4 linked regions of the Homo sapiens genome follow. The protein of the gene in region 3 purifies or fractionates together with the protein of the main gene of each other region. This does not show direct contact. Each region holds a gene or a part of one and is shown on either strand. Other genes may lie near its edges.

What was found.
Region 1: the proteins of ZNF653 (region 3) and PHF8 purify together in Homo sapiens (affinity purification with mass spectrometry; one large-scale study listed by BioGRID and IntAct). This does not show direct contact.
Region 2: the proteins of ZNF653 (region 3) and ZNF708 purify together in Homo sapiens (affinity purification with mass spectrometry; one large-scale study listed by BioGRID and IntAct). This does not show direct contact.
Region 4: the proteins of ZNF653 (region 3) and YTHDC2 purify together in Homo sapiens (affinity purification with mass spectrometry; one large-scale study listed by BioGRID and IntAct). This does not show direct contact.

What each region holds. Positions count from the first base shown.
Region 1 is NC_000023.11:53,935,506-53,939,973, forward strand, and holds the end of PHF8 (histone lysine demethylase PHF8), read right to left. Parts: intron 3,742-4,468; coding exon 3,653-3,741; 3' UTR 2,555-3,652; coding exon of another isoform or gene 2,476-2,554; 3' UTR 1,175-2,475; downstream 1-1,174. UniProt on the Homo sapiens protein: Histone lysine demethylase with selectivity for the di- and monomethyl states that plays a key role cell cycle progression, rDNA transcription and brain development.
Region 2 is NC_000019.10:21,321,943-21,326,410, forward strand, and holds part of ZNF708 (zinc finger protein 708), read right to left. Parts: intron 1-4,468. UniProt on the Homo sapiens protein: May be involved in transcriptional regulation.
Region 3 is NC_000019.10:11,482,048-11,486,940, forward strand, and holds the end of ZNF653 (zinc finger protein 653), read right to left. Parts: intron 4,834-4,893; coding exon 4,722-4,833; intron 3,724-4,721; coding exon 3,609-3,723; intron 2,095-3,608; coding exon 1,995-2,094; intron 1,813-1,994; coding exon 1,635-1,812; 3' UTR 1,382-1,634; downstream 1-1,381. UniProt on the Homo sapiens protein: Transcriptional repressor. May repress NR5A1, PPARG, NR1H3, NR4A2, ESR1 and NR3C1 transcriptional activity.
Region 4 is NC_000005.10:113,590,194-113,594,661, reverse strand, and holds part of YTHDC2 (3'-5' RNA helicase YTHDC2), read right to left. Parts: intron 3,622-4,468; coding exon 3,418-3,621; intron 2,667-3,417; coding exon 2,484-2,666; intron 1,360-2,483; coding exon 1,279-1,359; 3' UTR 1,272-1,278; exon of another isoform or gene 1,181-1,271; coding exon of another isoform or gene 1,172-1,180; 3' UTR 852-1,171; coding exon of another isoform or gene 744-851; 3' UTR 1-743. UniProt on the Homo sapiens protein: 3'-5' RNA helicase that plays a key role in the male and female germline by promoting transition from mitotic to meiotic divisions in stem cells.

The DNA.
Region 1 (4,468 bases), on a different chromosome or scaffold from region 3:
TCAAAACCCCACCTACTCCTGAGACAGACTGTGAGAACTGGAGGAGGTCATTTAACCAGTAGGTGCCAAAACCAGACAGCCTCACTCCAGACCCACAGAAGCAGAATCTCCAGGAGGAAGTAAATCTTGACTGGGTTCAAAATACTTTAATAGATGACCCACAGACAGTAAGCAGCCTGCCCTGGCTCACCCACAGAGTCAGGGTGGTGGTGAATTTGAAACTGAGGCTCCCAAGATCACCCTGGGAGCTCTCCTTAGGAGATAACTCTCAATTCTGCATCTTGCACATAACAGAGGCTTAATAAAGATCTGTTGGGTGCTTGAGCCTCAGAAGATTTTCTAATATGGTGAAGGCAAAGAACATAAGTTTTGGAATCAGGCAGATCCTGCTGCAGACCACTGGCAAACTTCAGTCTCCTTAAACTGTTAAATAGGACGAATATCCTCATGGGGTTTTTCAGTGAGGATTAAATGAGATATCCCTAAGTAAAATCCCTAGCCCAATGCCTGGCACCCAAAAGGCACTTAATATAATGGTAGTGTTTATCAGTGAGAAGTGGTAGAACAGAGTGGTAAGAATACACATTCTGGAACCAGGTTGGTCCCAGAATTTTCATGTATGATACAGGAAGGTTACTTTGTTTCTTCGCTGGCAGGATGAGGGTGTTGGTGAGGATGAAATGAATCAATAAAGTATTAAGAGCAGTGCCTGGCACAAGAAAACAAGTGCGATAATCGTGAAAACAAGCTCTGATAATTATATTCTTCTAACCCATGTACTGGCCCTAAGCACAGTAATCAAGTCCAGATTGCACAACAAGTGCATGGAAGAGAGAGGGAAAGAAAAAAAAAATCCCACATTCACAGAAAGAGGACACACTTGAAAAAGCAGTCTCTGGAAAGCCCTCCCATTGAACTTGTTAGGCCCCTTTGAATTATTGCACCCTTTCTTTTCTGCTCAGTCTGCTTCTGATGATCTACTTCAGGTGTGTGAAGCGTGTCCCTCCTGAGGGTGGGAATACCCTTCCCACTTCAAGCATAAGGCTGAGCACCAGGGAAATGCCTGACAACTTGCTGAGGGAGAGACAAAGAGTACAAGGAGAAGGCAGCACTCCCAGACCCTGCACCACACCACCACCCTCATCACAAAAAAAAAGAATGCCAAGCAAAGCAATTGCCAAGATAAATCACTTTTATCTCTATAGGAAAGGGAGGATCTAAAAAAAATATAAATTACATTAGTAACACAACATAAGAAAAAGACAGGGACAAAAACAACAGAGAAGTCTGAATGATGCTACCCTAACCTATTTATAAAAAGGCCCTGCATCAGAAATTCACAATCCTACCCACTTCTAAAAATATATTTAGACATGTACAGAAGCGGTGGGCTTGTTTTTAAATTGTTTGCTTTTTTTGTAAAAATATATTAAAGGTGAATAGAAATCCTCTCTCCCTTCCCCCTGTCCAGCCCCCAGCTAGGGACTGGAGATCAGGGGTAACTATCTCATGGTGTTCTAAACCTTGATTACTAACACTCCCAACCCCTCCCCAACTCACTTCACTTAGAACCTGAAACATTAAAAAAAACAAAAACAAAGACATCAGCCTCTTTGGAAAAGCATAACTCTGAGGGTAAACTTGCTTTTCATTGGAAACAACACAAAACAACAAACAGGGGGCTCTAAGAACCCAACTAAGCTAAATGAAACCCAGTCAAACAGAGGCTGGGTTTCAGCTCCACAGAAAACTTCTAACAAAGAAATAGAGGGAAAAGGCCGGAATCGGGGGGATTTGCTAGCAATTAGCTGCCTTTGAAAGATCAAGAAGGGGTGTTAATGGACAAAAGGGCTGGGGACCTGATCTTGGTTACAGCAGTCACCGCATAGTCAGGCAGTTGCCTATACAGGACAGAGGCTTCTCCTGCTCTCCCCTCACTACCCTCTGCTGCCTTGAAATCCCCAAAATAAGCAAAGCTGGGCAGAAACAGAGGGGAGGGGAGTAGGGACTCACGTGCTAGGGGGGAGGTAGCCAGGCTTTTTGCCTTTGGTGTGACTAGATGGAGAACTGCTTGGCCCCTGGGGTCCCCAAGGTAGAGAAAGCAAATGGGCTAAAGGAACCCCTGATTCCAAGGAAGGAAAGTAGAGGCAGGGCTATGGAGAAAAGAAAGACAAACTGGAGATACAAAGATGACAAAAGAAGCCTCACAAATTCCCTGTGGCCTGCATGGTAGCTATTAAATTCCCCAGAAGCATTGGGCAAGCTGGGGTGAGGTTGGAGTGGGTGGTACAGGTGGAAAGGGCAAGGGTACACTCCACTTGGGTAGTGCCAAATGGAGGTGGGGGGATGTTCTCCATCGAGTCCAGATTGCCAGTGAGGCAAGGCGGTGGGAGGTGGGGGCACTGTCTGGACAATGGAGACAATCCACGAAGGAAGGACAGGGGAAGGGGAGGATCGGATGGATGGTCTGCTCCTTCACGGATGGGCGTCTCTTCTCTTCAACTTGGGCTCGTGAATGGCCTGTCTGCATTCTGCTTGAACGATGACCTGTCGTCTGGAAGTGCAAAGGCCCAGGAGTGAAGATGTGAGTCCTGAGGTCTTCTTCAGACCAAGACCTCAGGTGGAGAAAGAAGCATGAAAAGTTCCCGATGGAGGACCCAGGTGTGGGCCGTCCCGCCACACCCTCCATAATGTCCAGGCTGTGCTCTGTGGTATAGGCGGAGCAAGCAGGCTGTAGGGCCAGGGTTATCTGCGTCATTGGCAGGTGCTTTCAGGTTTCTGGGAGATGGTTTTCCACCTGCCAGGGCCCAGCCACAGCCACAGCCACAGCCACGTGGATAATGTTCTACATGATTTCAAAATCCAGGCAAATCCCTGGAGCTCACCCTAAAACAAGTGGCCTCATGTGTAGCCAGCTAAAAGTAGCTTCCTCCAACAGGCTACAAAACCGTGGTCAAAGGCTTGGGCATCTGACCTCTCCCTACCTTGACAAGTGATAGGAATCACCTTTCTTTTGAAAGGTAAGTGAAGTTGGCATTTCTAGGCCACTTCTGGAAATGGCCCACAGTGGGGCAGGAAGGAGGCTCTAGGCCTTCCTCTTCATTTCCATGAAGCATTTGGCAAGAGGGGGCAGAGACCACAGCCTTCTCCCATGAGCAAGTCTGGAGGTGGGGCATGTCCACTGGACTGGGGAAATGGGGCAAACAGAATGGGTGGAGGTGGGCAGGCTTCTGGATATAGGGCTAGAGTTGCAGAAAGTGTCAAGCACTGGGCTTCCCACTTCATGGCTCAGGCTCCTTCATACCTCTCCTCATCCTGCCTTCCAGCTCTAGCGGGGGATGAAGAATAAAGAACAGACAAGGCAGGTGACGGGAGTGGTTTGGACGAGTAGAAAAGAGGGTTCTAGTCAGCTGGAAACCTCTCCCATTTACCTGCTCCTCAGTGGAGAAGGCAGGCAGGATGCTCTAGTGAAAGTGGGGAAGGGAACTAGAAGGAGTCGGTGGAGGGGTCCGTGCCTTTGGTAAGTCCCAAGAAAGCAGGACAATGCACCTCAGCACCTTGTCCAGGGCAGATAGGATCCAGGAGTGCCCCAAGAGTTGACAATGGAGAAGGCAATGGGGGTAAAGGGGTGAGGGGTGGGACACAGGAGGGCTCACAGAAGTAGTTTGCCATTTCTGTGGATTTTCAGGATACGGCCGAGTCTCTGCTTTGCTGTGGCCAGGCCCTTTTTGGGACGCTTTCCTGTGGGGGAAGGGAAAAGTAAGCAAGGGCTTTGGCAAGGGCTTCAACATCAAATCTGGCACCAACTGCCCTCAGGCCACCTCCCCTTCCTGTTTCTCTACCCACAAAGTTTCTCCATCCTTAGACCATATTGGGCAGGAAGCCCTCCTTAACTACTTCCAACCAACACCACATGCTTTGACTCTTCCTCCTATGACCTCCTGTAGCAGCAAGACTCCCTGATTACAGTTTGTCTAGTTCTTTTTCTCCACTGATTACTCTGGTCCCAATCATTTTCCTTCCAAGATCCTGCAGGGAGGTAAATGTACTTCCATACCCTCTTATCCTACCCACCAGGACTGGACAAGTGCCTGGTTAGTGATTAGAGCTCAGTGTCCCTGAAGTTGCCATCCCTAGGGCCTTGCTTCATTAGAAACTCTCATCTTCATCAGCCTTCAACATCACACCAACCTCCATGCCCTTGAGCTGCGTACTCTAGGGACTGGGCTTTGAGGACCAAAGTGAGGGAAAGGAAGGCTTCAGTCCTCTAACTCTTTGTTGTCTCTGTCTCCCCACATTAAATCCCCTCCCATGTCCTATTTGACTGCCTCCATATTTGATCAGTTCATCTCCTTCCTCTCCATTCCCTCTGGCAGAGCCCCAGGTACTCTTCCTGCCTGCCTGAACTTGTATATGTGCCTCCTCCCTAGAGTTCCCATCTCTAGCCCACCCTCTACCTCCTTCTGGC
Region 2 (4,468 bases), 9.8 Mb from region 3:
TTGTGCCTGGGTGGGGCTGTACTCTAATTTATTTCTCTGTTCATACAGGCAGGTGAGATTATGAACAGGTGGTCCAGAACCCTAGGTTGGTGGAGAAAACAGGTTGCTGGTGCAGATTCAGTGTCTGGGGGTGCGGATATGCCAGGAGACTTGTAGACATGTTTGTGAGTTTGTAGCAAGAAACACCAGGATCAAAAATGCTGTGGTAAAATTCCTGAGGGTGGTGCCTAGTCCTGGGAATAAGTGTGGACACGTCAATGTCTAATGGGTATGTTTGTGAGTGGCTGGGAATCCTGTGGTGGCAGCTGTGGGAAAAGGGGGTCTGTCATCAGAGCTCATATTCTTTTTTTTTCTTTCTTTCCTTTTTTTTTTCTTTTGAGACAGAGTCTAGTTCTGTCACCCAGGCTGGAGTGCAGTGGCGCAATCTTGGCTCATTGCAACCTCTGCCTCCCGGGTTCAAGTGATTCTCCTTCCTCAGCCTCCTGAATAGCTGAGATTACAAGAACGCACCACCATGCCCAGCTTATTTTTTCTATCTGTAGTAGGGACGGGGTTTTGCCACGTTGCCCAGGCTGGTCTTGAACTCCTGAGCTCAGGCAATCCACCCGCCTCGGCCTCCCAAAGTGCTAGGATTACAGGCGTGAGCCACGGCACCCGGCCAGAGCTCCTATTCTCTAATTTTTCAGTCCTCTCTCACCCTGGGAGAACTGAAATCACAGGACAATGGGCAGTGTGACAGCCTGTGTACAGGAGAGCAGAGCGTCCCATTCCCAGACATCCAGAGTTTTATTCCAGGTCAGGCCCCCGTATCTTTTTTCTGGCACCAAATCTGCAGTTTACTGAAAACCAAGCAATTCTCTAACACTAACTCATTGTCTAACATTTTATTTCTGACACCACCCAGTGTCAGCACAGGCCCTGACTCAGTCCCACACTGTCCTTACGGCAGATGCCAGGCACAAACTCCATGGGCCCATTTACATTTCTGAGCTACTGTTTAAAAATTGAGGACTCCCATAACCTTTTTCAAGTTCAATAATTTGATAAAGCTACTCATAGAACTCAGCAAATACTGTAGTTATATTTACCAGTTTATTATAAAAGATACAACCCAGGAAAAGTCAAATGGCAGACATGTATAGAACAAAGAAAGGTGGGGAAAGATGACACACATAGACAATCCAGATAAATAACTGTGATTAATAAAATTCTTCATTGTTTGTGTTCTCCAGGAACAGTTTATCGAAAGAAACACCCTTCCCATTATGACTTAGATGGTGCTCTCTTTTCTTATCTATCACATAGCAGACACCGACTCTGCACATTTTTTTTCTTATTGAAAAATCAGTTGAATTTGACTTCAGTGGTGAAAATAAAATACTTCTTAAGGAAACTTTACTTAAGTTTGTCTTTTTCCCCAAGGCTTCTGAACTTTACAAACCCATTTTATGTAACTCCAAAGAACAGGCTGACTTCAGTGTGAAACATTCTCTGATCTAAAATCTGATTTTTTCACCCTGCATTTGCCATTCCCCTTCCACCTCCTTTCTAATCTTGTTTGTTCCTCCTTAGGAAAGGAAGCCTTTGTCTGCCTGAACTTTGCAATTCTTAAAGACCTTGTAGTTGGTACTTCTGTTGCAATATTTCTTTGGAAGTCAAAATTTTTATGTAAATTCAACCTTGTTTTATTTTCAAAGTCTATAAACTGCCTCAAAACAAGAACAACTTCATCTTCAGTAAGACCCTCCCAATCCCCTTTCATTTTAACATCAACTGCATCCACCTGTGGGTCCCCAGCTTTCCAGGGCTCTGTAGCTTCTCCCAGGATAAAGACTTCTATGGCTGGGGTGAGCAGGCTGGGATATCTACAGAGGAGACTCCCCAGAAAAAACTAACTGGGCCTTTAATAAAATTTTTTTGCAGGCTCAATATTAGCCTTAGCTCTGAGCCAGTGGGCTAAAGCTTTAATTTCCATGTCAAGAGTTATTCACTTGGTCTTTGAAACTTAAGTGTTTAGCCGGGCGCAGTGGCTCACGCCTGTAATCCCAACACTTTGGGAGGCTGAGGCGGGTGGATCACAAGGTCAGGAGATCAAGACCATCCTGGCTAACATGGTGAAACGTTGTCTCTACTAAAAATACAAAAAAAAAAATTAGTCGGGCGTGGTGGCGGGCACTTGTAGTCCCTGCTACTGGGTAGGCTGAGGCAGGAGAATGGTGTGAACCCGGGAGGTGGACCTTGCAGTGAGCTGAGATCGCGCCACTGCACTCCAGCCTGGCTACAGAGCAAGACTCCGTCTCAAAAAAAAATAAACTTAAGTGTTTAAAAAATCCAGCGTTTCTTGGCTGGGCGCAGTGGCTTACGCCTGTAATCCCAGCACTTTGGGAGGCCGAGGCGGGCAGATCACCTGAGGTCAGGAGTTTGAGACCAGCCTGACCAACATGCAGAAACCCCGTCTCTACTAAAAATACAAAATTAACCAGGTGTGGTGGTGCATGCCTGTAATCCCAGCTACTCAAGAGACTGAGGCAGGAGAATAGTTTGAACCCAGGAGGCGGAAGCTGCAGTAAGCCGAGATCATGACATTGCACTCCAGCCTGGGCAATAAGAGAGAAATTCCATTTCAAAAAATAAAAAAAAAATCCAGCAGTTTCTCAAACACAGTGTTGACATAAGAGAAGAAAATTTTAGGGTGCTTATATTTCATATCTCAATAAGAAAAGCAAAAGTGTCCATTCCTTTCAAACAATAAATGCATTATTTTATTATTTCCATTAAAAGTCATATAGTAAACAATTAGTCATATGGAAACATGTCTAGGAGGTACCAAGTTTCAAATAAAATTTAGCTTAAAACTAGGAAATCAAGATAACAGGATTTGAACAGAGATATTCACTGTCACAAATTTACCCTGCAAAAAGAGGAGCTGATGCTTTCATGAATCTATGTAACTCAGCAATTATCTACCACATTTTCTTGTGAAAATGTACTCATTTTCTACAGCCAAAATGGGAAAGACATTTCCCCTATTCTTTTTCTTGGTAGCATTCTTAAACAGCCTTGAAATTTTATTGGAAATTACCAAGCCATAAAAAATACACCTGACACTGATGAAAGAAATCATAGATGGCACAAACAAATGGAAACAAATCCCACGCTCATGGATAAGTAGAATCAATATTGTGAAAATGACCATACTGCCAAAAGCAATCTACAAATTCAGTGCAATCCTTATCAAAATACCACCATAATTCTTCACAGAATTAAAAAAAATTCTAAAATTCATGTGGAACAAAAAAGAGCCTGCGTAGCCAAAACAAGGCTAAGCAAAAAGAACAAATCTGGAGGCATAACATTACCTGATTTCAAACTACACTATAAGGCCATAGTCACCAAAACAGCATGTTACTGGTTTAAAAATAGGCACATAGACCAATGGAACAGAATAGAGAACCCAGAAATAAACCCAAATACTTACAGCCAACTGATCTTCAGCAAAGCAAACAAAAACATAAAGTGGGGAAAGGACACCCTTTTCTACAAATGGTACTGGGATAATTGGCTAGCCATATGTAGGAGAATGAAACTGGATCCTCATCTCTCATCTTATACAAAAATCAACTCAAGATGGATTAAGGACTTAAACCTAAGATCGGAAACTATAAAAATTATAAAACATAACATTGGAAAAACCCTTCTAGACATTAGATTAGGCAAGGATTTCATGACCAAGAACTCAAAAGCAAATGCAATAAAAACAAAGATAAATATCAGGGACCTAATTAAATTAAATAGTTTTTACACGGCAAAAAGAACAGTCAGCAGAGTAAACAGACAACACATAGAGTGAGAAAAAATCTTCACAATCTATACGTCTGACAAAGGACTAATATCTAGAGTCTACAACAAACCCAAACAAATCAGTACAAAACAAACAATCCCATCAAAAAGTGGACTAAGGATATGAATAAACAATTCTCAAAAGAAGGTATACAAATGGCCAACAAACATATGAAAAAATCCTCAACATCACTAATGATCAGGGAAATGCAAATCAAAACCACAATGCGATACCACCTTACTCCTGCAAGAATGGCCATGATCAAAAAATCAAGAAACAGTAGATGTTGGCATGGACGTGGTGAACAGGGAACACTTCTACATTGCTGGTGGGAATGTAAACTAGAAAAGCCACTATGGAAAACACTGTGGAGATTCCTTAAAGAACTAAAAGTAGGATTACCATTTGATCCAGCAATCCCACAATTGGGTATCTACCCAGAGGAAAAGAAGTCATTATTCGAAAAATATACTTGCACACGCATGTTCATAGTGGCACATTTCACAATAGCAAAATCATGGAACCAACCCAAATCCTCATCAATCAATGAATGGATAAAGAAACTGTGGTATATATATACAATGGAATACTACACAGCCATAAAAAATGAATTAACAGCATTTGCAG
Region 3 (4,893 bases):
AGTCCCCACCCAATCCTCGTTCCTGCACGCCCTTTAGGCTCCAGACTGTCAGAGAGCGCCACCAGCGAGGAGAGCCTAATTTGCCCAATCAGGGGCGGCCCTTGAGATAACCAGTTACTGGAAGATGCCCTAGAGATCGAGCCAATGGGAGTGCGCGCACCAGGGGATGCTGCCACGCCTGGAAAGGGCAGGCCAATCGCAGTGGCCCGCGCAATAGGGGCGGTGGCGGTGCAGATCCCCGGGTGGCCCCTCTTGGGCTCGCCGGGGCGACCTGGCTGCGGGCGCTAGGGGCCCCAAGCGATGGTCTGTTCCCCACCCCGTGTTCCTCCCGGTTTCCGTCATCGGAAACTGAGCTAGGAGGGGGGCTGCTCCTGGGCGCGCGGACCCCGCTGCGGTTCCCATGGAAACCTGCCGGCTCCGGCAGTGCGGGGAGAGTGGAGGGGACCTGCCTCGCGGGGGGAGGGAGCTCGCGGGGGCGGCCCCAGCGGCCGGACTCGCTCATCCTTGCCGATTCTTCTGTCCCCGGCTGGGGTAGCCCCCCGGTCCGCAGCAGGAACTGAGGCATAGCTGGGGCCCCGCCTCATCCCCCGAACTGGTGAGGAACCGGCGGGGCCAATCTGCGCGTGGCGCCACAGGGCTCCCCCGGGCACGTGCCTGAGCTCGCGGCTGCGGTCCCCAGGGTCACGTGGCTGCGGCCACCAGGGCCTACGCGCCTCGCACGCCACCTAGCGGCCGCGCCTCGCTCCCCGCCCCTCTCTCTAGCGGCCCGCAGGAGGCGGCGGCCTCAGCATCCTCCTCCGGGAAATGGGGCCAGGGCAGCCGCCGCCAACTCCCCTTCCCCCCGCGGCTTCCTGTTTTAGGAACACGCCGAGCTAGTTCTACCTCGGGGTTTTGGCACTGGTTGTTCCTCTGGCCTGAGAATTTCCTCCCCCAGCTTTCTTCTGGGATAGATCTTTGTCATTCTGGTCTATGCGCAAATGCCACCTCCTCAGAGGCCCTCCCTGACCACCGACCTAAACAGCATCCCCGGAAAACAACGCATCACTCTCTCTTTTGCATGGCGCTTGTCGCTAGCTGCAAATGTTTCTCATTTTAGGGGTTTACTGAACACCTCCCCATCTCATCCCGGAGCTCACTGAGGGTGGGAGATGGGTGCCCCATAAAACAGGAGGAAGTGGAAATTAGGGTCCTGAGTTCCGGGAGATGCCCAGAGACCCCAGACCCCCAAGCCTCACCCCATCCTGTGGGAGCAGGGGCTGTGCGAGGCTGCTGGGCCCAGGGGCATCCCTCGTTCCCTGCCTCGCTTAGGAAGGGATCAAGTAGGCTGGAGACAGAGAGGGGCCTGGCACCCCAAATCATTCAGGCCTAGGGGAAGGGCATCTCCTTTCTCGCTCTTTAATCTCACTCTGCTCTCTTGACACAGTTCCAGCAATGCAGCCCCAGGCACCAGCTCCGAGAAGGATGCGGTGGGGCGGGGTGGGGAACCTGCCCAGGGGGCCCAGCTCTGGGGCGGGGCGGGGGCGCCTCCTTCCGGCCCGCGGTCCGGGCGGCCCTCGCAGCTGTCCAGGCCCCGGCAAGCCCGGGCGTGGTGTCCGAGCGGACGAATAAATAGGGGCGGTCAGTGGTCAGGTGGGTCAGGTGGGCTTGTGATCCGGGTGGCTTTTGAGCGTGTGGAACTTGACGCTGTCCAGCTTCTCGAAGCGCTTCCCGCAGCGATCGCACGTGAAGTTGTACTGCACCTCCGCAGTGTGCTTCTTCATGTGCCAGTTGAGCGACGCGCGCTGCCGGCACTGGTAGCCACAGATCTCGCACCTGCCGGGAGCCCGTGGCGGGACGGGGCGGGGTCAGAGTGGGCGGGGCGGGGCGGGGCCCTACAAGGCCGAGCGCAGGTGGAACCGGGCCCAGACACTGCGTTGGGGCGAAGCCGCCCCTGGGACCTGCTGGGATCCCCTCCCACCCAATCCTCTAGCGGCACGGGGCGGCCTGTCACTCACTGCAGGGGGGTCTCGCCGGTGTGGGTGCGCCGATGTACCTCCAGGTGGTTCTTCCTCTTGAAGGACTTGCCGCAGGTCTCGCAGGTGAATTCACGGACACCTGGGGGCGGTGGGGACCGAGGCTGAGGACGGTGGGCTATGGGGTGTCTCTGATGTGCTGCAGACTCTGATGCTAGAAGGAGCATCAGGCTGTCTCCTTGGATCTCCCAGGACTGCAGGTGCAGGCCGACCAAACCCTACGTCCTTCCCGTGCATTTGCCCACAGACGCCATCAAGCAGAACTGAGATCGAACTTGGGTCCCTGAGAGGCATAGGGTGCACACTACCAAGCCAACATGGGTCTGAATTTGTCTTGTGTGTGTGTATATATATATTTTGCGACGGAGTTTCGCTCTTGTTGCCCAGGCTGGAGTGCAATGGCCCGATCTCGGCTTACCGCAACCACAACCTTGGTCTCGCGGGTTCAAGCGATTCTTCTGCCTCAGCCTCCTGAGTAGCTGGGATTACAGGCATGTGCCACCAACCATGCCCAGCTAATTTTGTATTTTTAGTAGAGACGGGGTTTCTCTATGTTGGTCAGGCTGGTCTCGAACTCCTGACCTCAGGTGATCTGCCCACCTCAGCCTCCCAAAGGGCTGGGATTACCACCACGCCCGGCCTTGTCCCTGATATTTGAACTTTGGGTGATTTCGCAAAATGAAAACAAAAACAAAAACAAAAAAAACTTCTGCCCAGCACGGTGGCTCACACCTATAATCCCAGCACTTAGGGAGGCCAAGGTGGGCAGATCGCCTGAGATCAGGAGTTGGAGACAAGCCTGGCTAACATGGCGAAACCCTGTCCCTACTAAAAAAAAAAAATTAGCTGGCATGGTGGTGAGCGCCTGTAATCCCAGATACTTGGGAGGCTGGGGCAGAAGAATTGCTTGAACCCGGGAGGCAGAGGCTGCAGTGAGCCAAGATCGGATTCCAGCCCGGGCAACAGAGTGAGACTCTGTTGCAAAAAATAACCACACACACATTAAAAAAAACCAAAAAAAACAAAAAAAACCCCCAAACTTCTGACCTCCTGTGATATCAGAAGCTCTGGCCCTCAGGGCATGCCCTATCGCTGGACACAGGCACCATGGCTCTCCACTATGTCCCCAGCCCATGCAGAAGACCTGCATCTCTGCCACAAGTGGAAACAGAAGCCCAGTCCCAAGCCAGCTGCTCCTCTTTGCCCAGCTCTCCTTCCTGCTGCTGCTTGGGTGGGCACTGGTCTAGCCTGTGGCCCCAGGTGCTGCTATAGGTTCCAATCTGGAAGAGCAGTGGCGGTGTCAGCTGCTCCCTAAGTCTCGCATGAGACCTGCTCTTGGGATCATGGGGCATGGGGTCGCGGGGATAGGAGGGAAGATGGCCAGCCCCACCCAATTCCTGTGATTGATTGGTAATAGTTCCTGTCGCTGTGGCTCACATAGCTACAGCTTACTGAGGACAGGGAGGAGGCTCCTAGGGGTGTAGTCCTGTGCCCGGAGACCCAGCACTGGGCTTTGACCCGCCAGCTCTGGCCCAGGCTCCCAGGCCCATGTCCCTGTGTCCCCCGCTCATGCTGCCAGCTGGCCCAGGGCCTGACCTGAATGGATGATCATGTGCCGCCGCAGGTGGTTGGATAAATAGAACTTCTTGCCACAGCCAGGATGAGGGCACACTTTGGTCTTTCCTTTCCGATGCACAAGATTGACGTGGTTCTGGAGACGAGACAGGCAGAAGTGGGTCCCATAGGCCCACAGAAGGGGCTCTGGGAGGTGGGGAGAGATGAGGGCAGCTGGAAGGCAGGCTGGGGCTGGCCTCCCCAGGAGGAGGGAAGAGGGGTACCCTTGCCCAGCTCAGAGATTCCCAGGGGCACAACTGGGGTCAAAGGGTAGCTTTATTTTTTTTATTTTTTGAGATGGAGTCTTGCTCTGTCGCCCAGGCTGGAGTGCAGTGGTGTTCTCTCAGCTCACTGCAAGCTCCACCCCCCCGGGTTCACACCATTCTCCTGCCACAGCCTCCTGAGTAGCTGGGAGTACAGGCGCCCGCCACCACGCCCGGCTGCTATTATTTTTTTCTGTATTTTTTAGTACAGACAGGGTTTCACCGTGTTAACCAGGATGGTCTCGATCTCCTGACCTCGTGATCCGCCCACCTCGGCCTCCCAAAGTGCTGGGATTACAGGTGTGAGCCACCGCACCTGGCCAAGGGCAGCTTTATTGAACACCTACTATATGCCAGGCTCTGGACTGGGGTATCTGTCAACTCTGTGAAGGGCCCAGCTGTTAGCCCAATTAATCGATGGGGAAACTGAGGTTCAAGGCTCTGTGGTTTGGCCAAGGTCTCACAGGTGGCCAGTGGCAGGACTGGGACTGGATTTGAGGGCTATCAGCCTCTGTGGGCCTGGAACAGGCAGCCCCAATTGATTCATTCCTTTGTTCCTTCACTCTTTAACTTACTAGAACAACCCTGGCTCCAGCTTGCAGGCCTGGCTTGCACTAAGTGCTTAATACATGCTCAATCAATGCATGGCATGGCACAAAGGCCTGTTGTTGCATCCTCCCATGCCAGGTCCTGGGGTGTGACAAGTCCCTGTCTTTGCCTTCAGGGACACCTCGTCAAATTTCAAGGGGCAAACTAGAGGTAGGACATCCTGGTGGTGCCATGGCCTGGGCCTTGTGGGCCTGGCCCAGGCTGCTCCGGGTGGCGGCCTCACCTGGAAGCTGCTGAGGGCCACGTAGACTTGGCTGCAGCCCTCGTATGGGCAGTGGAACATCTCGAGCAGGCCGTCAGCATCCATCACCCGCGACCGCTTGCTCCGCCGCCTCCTGGAGGGGAAGGGGCCATGACATCGGGGCTCCCGCACCAGGCAGGCTGGGGGCCTGCGG
Region 4 (4,468 bases), on a different chromosome or scaffold from region 3:
CCTGTTGCTCTATTTTCCCTTCAAAAAGTCTCTAAGGAAATTTTATAAACAGTGGTGGTAAAAAGATAATTCTGAGATGGCAAAGAAATATGAGACTTGGCACAAGCACGGATTTACAAAAAAAAAATTATCCCCCATTTATTAAACCATATATGCGAAAAAGGAAAATCATATCTGAAAACATAAGCCAGTGAAAACATACTGAAAAAAAATGGAAGGCGGCACTTAGAATTGTGGCGCTTGCAGGCTTTAGTTTGGAAGACGCACAGCAAGCAAGCTACCAGTTGAGAATTTTTAAAAACTTGTATGAACTTGTTTAAATTTTGAACTTGTTTCAATCAAGTTGTAGCCAAAACAAAAAGGTCATAATTACTGTGCTCATATAAGAGATGTGACGAGGGAAGGAGGGAGGGAGAAATGCAGGAAAGGAGCGGGGAGAGGAGGAAGGGAGGAAGAGAGGGAGGAAAGAGTAAGGTACACATCAGGTTAAAAGGGGCAGAATTAGGAATAAAACTAAGCACTTAATCTAATCTGATCAGGAAGAAACTTTGCCCTTTATTCAGATTTTATTGCATTTCATAATCACAGAAAAAGAACATCCAACTTTATTCTTAAATGTGTCTCAAGTTAAAAATGGCAGAATGAATAGCCCTTAGTTAGCACACACTATTTTTAAAAGGGACACTTGTAGAATTTCACTGGTTTTTTGTTGTTGTCCTTGTTGTTGTTTTCCCCGCTTCTTTTCATAGGTGTTGACGTATTTGTTTTCTAATGATAATCTTAAGAGTTGACTCTTCTAAAATGGTGCTCAGATGTTCTGATATATTCAGGCCTTTCTTAAACAACTTACTCTGCATTAAAAAGTCATCAATAAGAACTGTAATTCAGTGTTTTTAAAAATGAAATGTTTAACTTCAAATTGTTTGTTTAAAATAAACTGCTATTGTGCCAAATAATGAAACTACTATTTTATTCATTACAAACATCATATAATCATTCTCTATAATCACTATAAAAATTTAAATGCTTCCTTTCTCCTGTATATGAAGATGGTAGTTCTAAAGCAACACTCTAAAAGTGTTAAAAAGCCCATTCGTAACACACACCCCACCTCAGTTTTTGAAAGTCAGTGCATTCAGTGGTTATAAATAGGCATGATGTTCTTCCACAGCTAAGAGTTCTAGAAGAAAGGGGAAAAAAAAAGATAAATAATCTGAAAGGTTCCTAATGATCACAAATACTGCCAATACTCAAAGTCAAGATGGTATAACCTGAGTGTCAATCAGTTGTGTTTTTTTCTCCCAAGGGAAGACGTTCCCATAACTGGAGCAACTGTTCACCAACCAGAGGTTCTAGTTCCTAGATAAATCAGAAGTCAAAATAAACATAAAAAGAACTGGAGTGAAAATTTTTAATGACCAAAACCTACACTGATAAAAATGTAAGAAAATCACTTTAAATTTCATTTTCCTACCAGCGTATGCTAAAATCATCTGGTATGAATTGTTCTAATTCTTTGCTTTAAGGTTTATGGAGTTGACTTCCAGATTTAAGATTACAGTTAATCTGCAAAATCTCTCAACTTTTGTGACAAAATGGCAACAGATTCCCATGGAGTCCTGGAACTGTTTCTACCTAAAAATAATGGATTTTGTTTTTCATAGAGATTCAGCAAAAGCACTCAGCTGGAACTTCCAAAGGTTTACTGTGAAACCTAGCATATTCGATGTTGGGTTTTTTTCCAAGGAACTCTCTTAAGCAACTATATCTTCTTATCTTGAAAATTATTAAAATATTTTTTCTTCTAAGATTTCTAGCTAACATATTTCTTCAAAATCATTATTATAGAATAAAAATGAAATTATTCTCACACAATTGAAAAGAATCCCACTTCATAGTACTCCTGTGGAATGATAACCTATGATAAGCACTTAAGAAGAACCCAAACACTTTTTACATGGTGATTTGAAACGAGTCATACTGGTTCAGATAAATTATTAGCTGTGTGACCTTAGGCAAAACTAATCTTTGAGTCTATTTTCTCCTATATAAAATTGGACTAATAATTTAATCATAAGAAATAAATTATATCTTCTAAAGCAGCTAGCATAGTATTTGGTCAATATACATTAATTTCCATCATCTTAACTAGCTTAAAATGCATGTAAATAGCATCATGAAGACAAAGCAAAACACAATAGAAATAAACAAGCCACTAGAATATAAAAAGGTTATTTACTTTACATAATTAAAGCCAAAGAGAAGTTAAATACTATTGTCATCTTGAGACTCTGACTGCAAGGAGCAATCAGACACATTTACAAGTAGGTTTTTACTATCTTTTTACAAACCTGAACCCCTGTTTCCCATGTGCATATGGAATATAAAATTTGTACTCTTACATTTTCTCCTCAATTAAAGCACTGGATAACAGAAAACAAACAGAAACAAAAGTAAATAAAAAAAAAAATGCCATTGTATACCTGCCCATCCCTGCTTATCTGCACTTTCTTGTTGTCATTCCATGGATTGAGTAAATGGTGTGCAAATTGAAAGGGAAGGCTTTCTTTTCGTATCCACTCCACCTTAAATACTCCTCCTAGTCCAGCAGAGCCCCAGTCCTGACTCTTTTCCCTTCCAATCTCAGAAGACATCCTAGAAAATCCCTGTAGGTAAAATGGGAGGAAGGAATAGAGGTGAGGAGGAGATTAGCATGTCTAAATTTAATTTATCTGAGAAGGCTGAGTTTTTAAAATTTTAAGATTAAGATATAATATTGAAATAACAGATACCTAACAAAAACAAAAAATAAGCTACTAAATTTTTCATTAAAAGCTCTCTTAGCAAATTTTAGAAAAAAACAGTTCTAGCCTCCTAACAATTTCAAATATCAATAATGATTTCTAAATAAAATAGCAAAGTCCATATTTTTATTCCATGATAAATGGATACAAGCTAACCTCTAAGCTTTCATTTCCAAAAATTATAATAAACATCAAATAATAAATGTATTATTTTATAAATTCAGGTATACATTAAGTCAAGATGGGTGATGGGTTAAGAAACATACTTAGTTTACTGATTGTCAATACTAACTTCCTTGGCCTATTTAAATAAATATTTTACCAAAAGGTCAAGCTTCTCATTACTTTGAATCCACTTGAGAATTAGTAAATCTAAAGTTGTCTTCAGAAGGAAACATAGTTTACCTGGAAAGACTCTGGTAAGACAAGGCAAAAACAAAGAGGATTCCAGTTCTATCATCCTCTAAAGAGATGCAATATATCCCTTATTCTCAGTCAAGCAAAAGGCATTCTTGCATTCTGATGCAATGAAAAGCCAGTTGTTTTTCTAAAAATCTCTATGATTTAACCTATAGCCAGAACAACCCCATTTTACTGATTCAGGGTGGCTCACCTGGAAATGTCCAGATCCTTGAACAGAAAATACCAAGTAAACTATGCTGCTTTCCCAAAAGGCTCGATTTAGCTTCCGTTCATTACTAGGAGTTGTAGACCAGATACCCTTCTGTTGAGAAATTTCAAGGTTTCTCAAATTGCTACTCTTCATTATGAAGTATCGAACAGGCATGTTTGGTCTTGGCGAAGGAGATTTTGAGCCCTATAAAAGAAAACATAAGTTCTTGAAAGGTAACCTGACCTTTCAAAACCAAGAGGCTCCATTAAATAACATCTTCATAAACATATAAGCCAAAATATTTTATCATATATTCAACAAATGCAAATAGCTCTATCATGTCTGAAACCTACACAAGACTCAACCAAAATAAAGTTAGCCAAAAACAAGTACTCATTTTCAGAGCATTCAAAATCCCTTATCAACAAAGGCTCCTGGAGTACCAACTTTGGTTTATACCTCAAATATACTTTCAGAAATTGTTTTAATAAACTTTCAAAATCAGAAAACAAAACAAATACTTCTCCAGCTTACTGCCTGGAGGCAGTTTTCAGAGGACAAAGAAAAACAGAGTCCAGTGGTCTCATTAAGTTGTGCAGAAAGACACTGGAGTTCAGAGACCGAAGTGGCTACTGTGCATGGCAATGTACTATCTTAGACAGAAAGGAGCTGCACATAAAGAGAGCTCCAAAGGAAACACAGAGGGGTTCCCACAAGTTTTTGGCTAAGTGCTGACCTGAACATGAGTGAGAAAAAAGATAAATAACCCAAGGCTAGGGAAAGATCCAAAGGAAAACAAGTAGACCAAACAATTCCTAGAGCTCACTCATGGCTGGGAATATTTCGTGTTATCTTCAGCCAGAACAGATAGAACCTGTAATATATATGGTACTGGCCCACAGAAGGGCCATACCTTAGTATTGGAACTAAATTAATAACAGAATAAAGACTGCTCTGGCCCATTCCTAACATTACTTAAAAGCAAACTTCAAAAGGATTCAACTGATTGCAACTAAACTGTGCATCACAACAAAGTCTAACGCTATTGAAA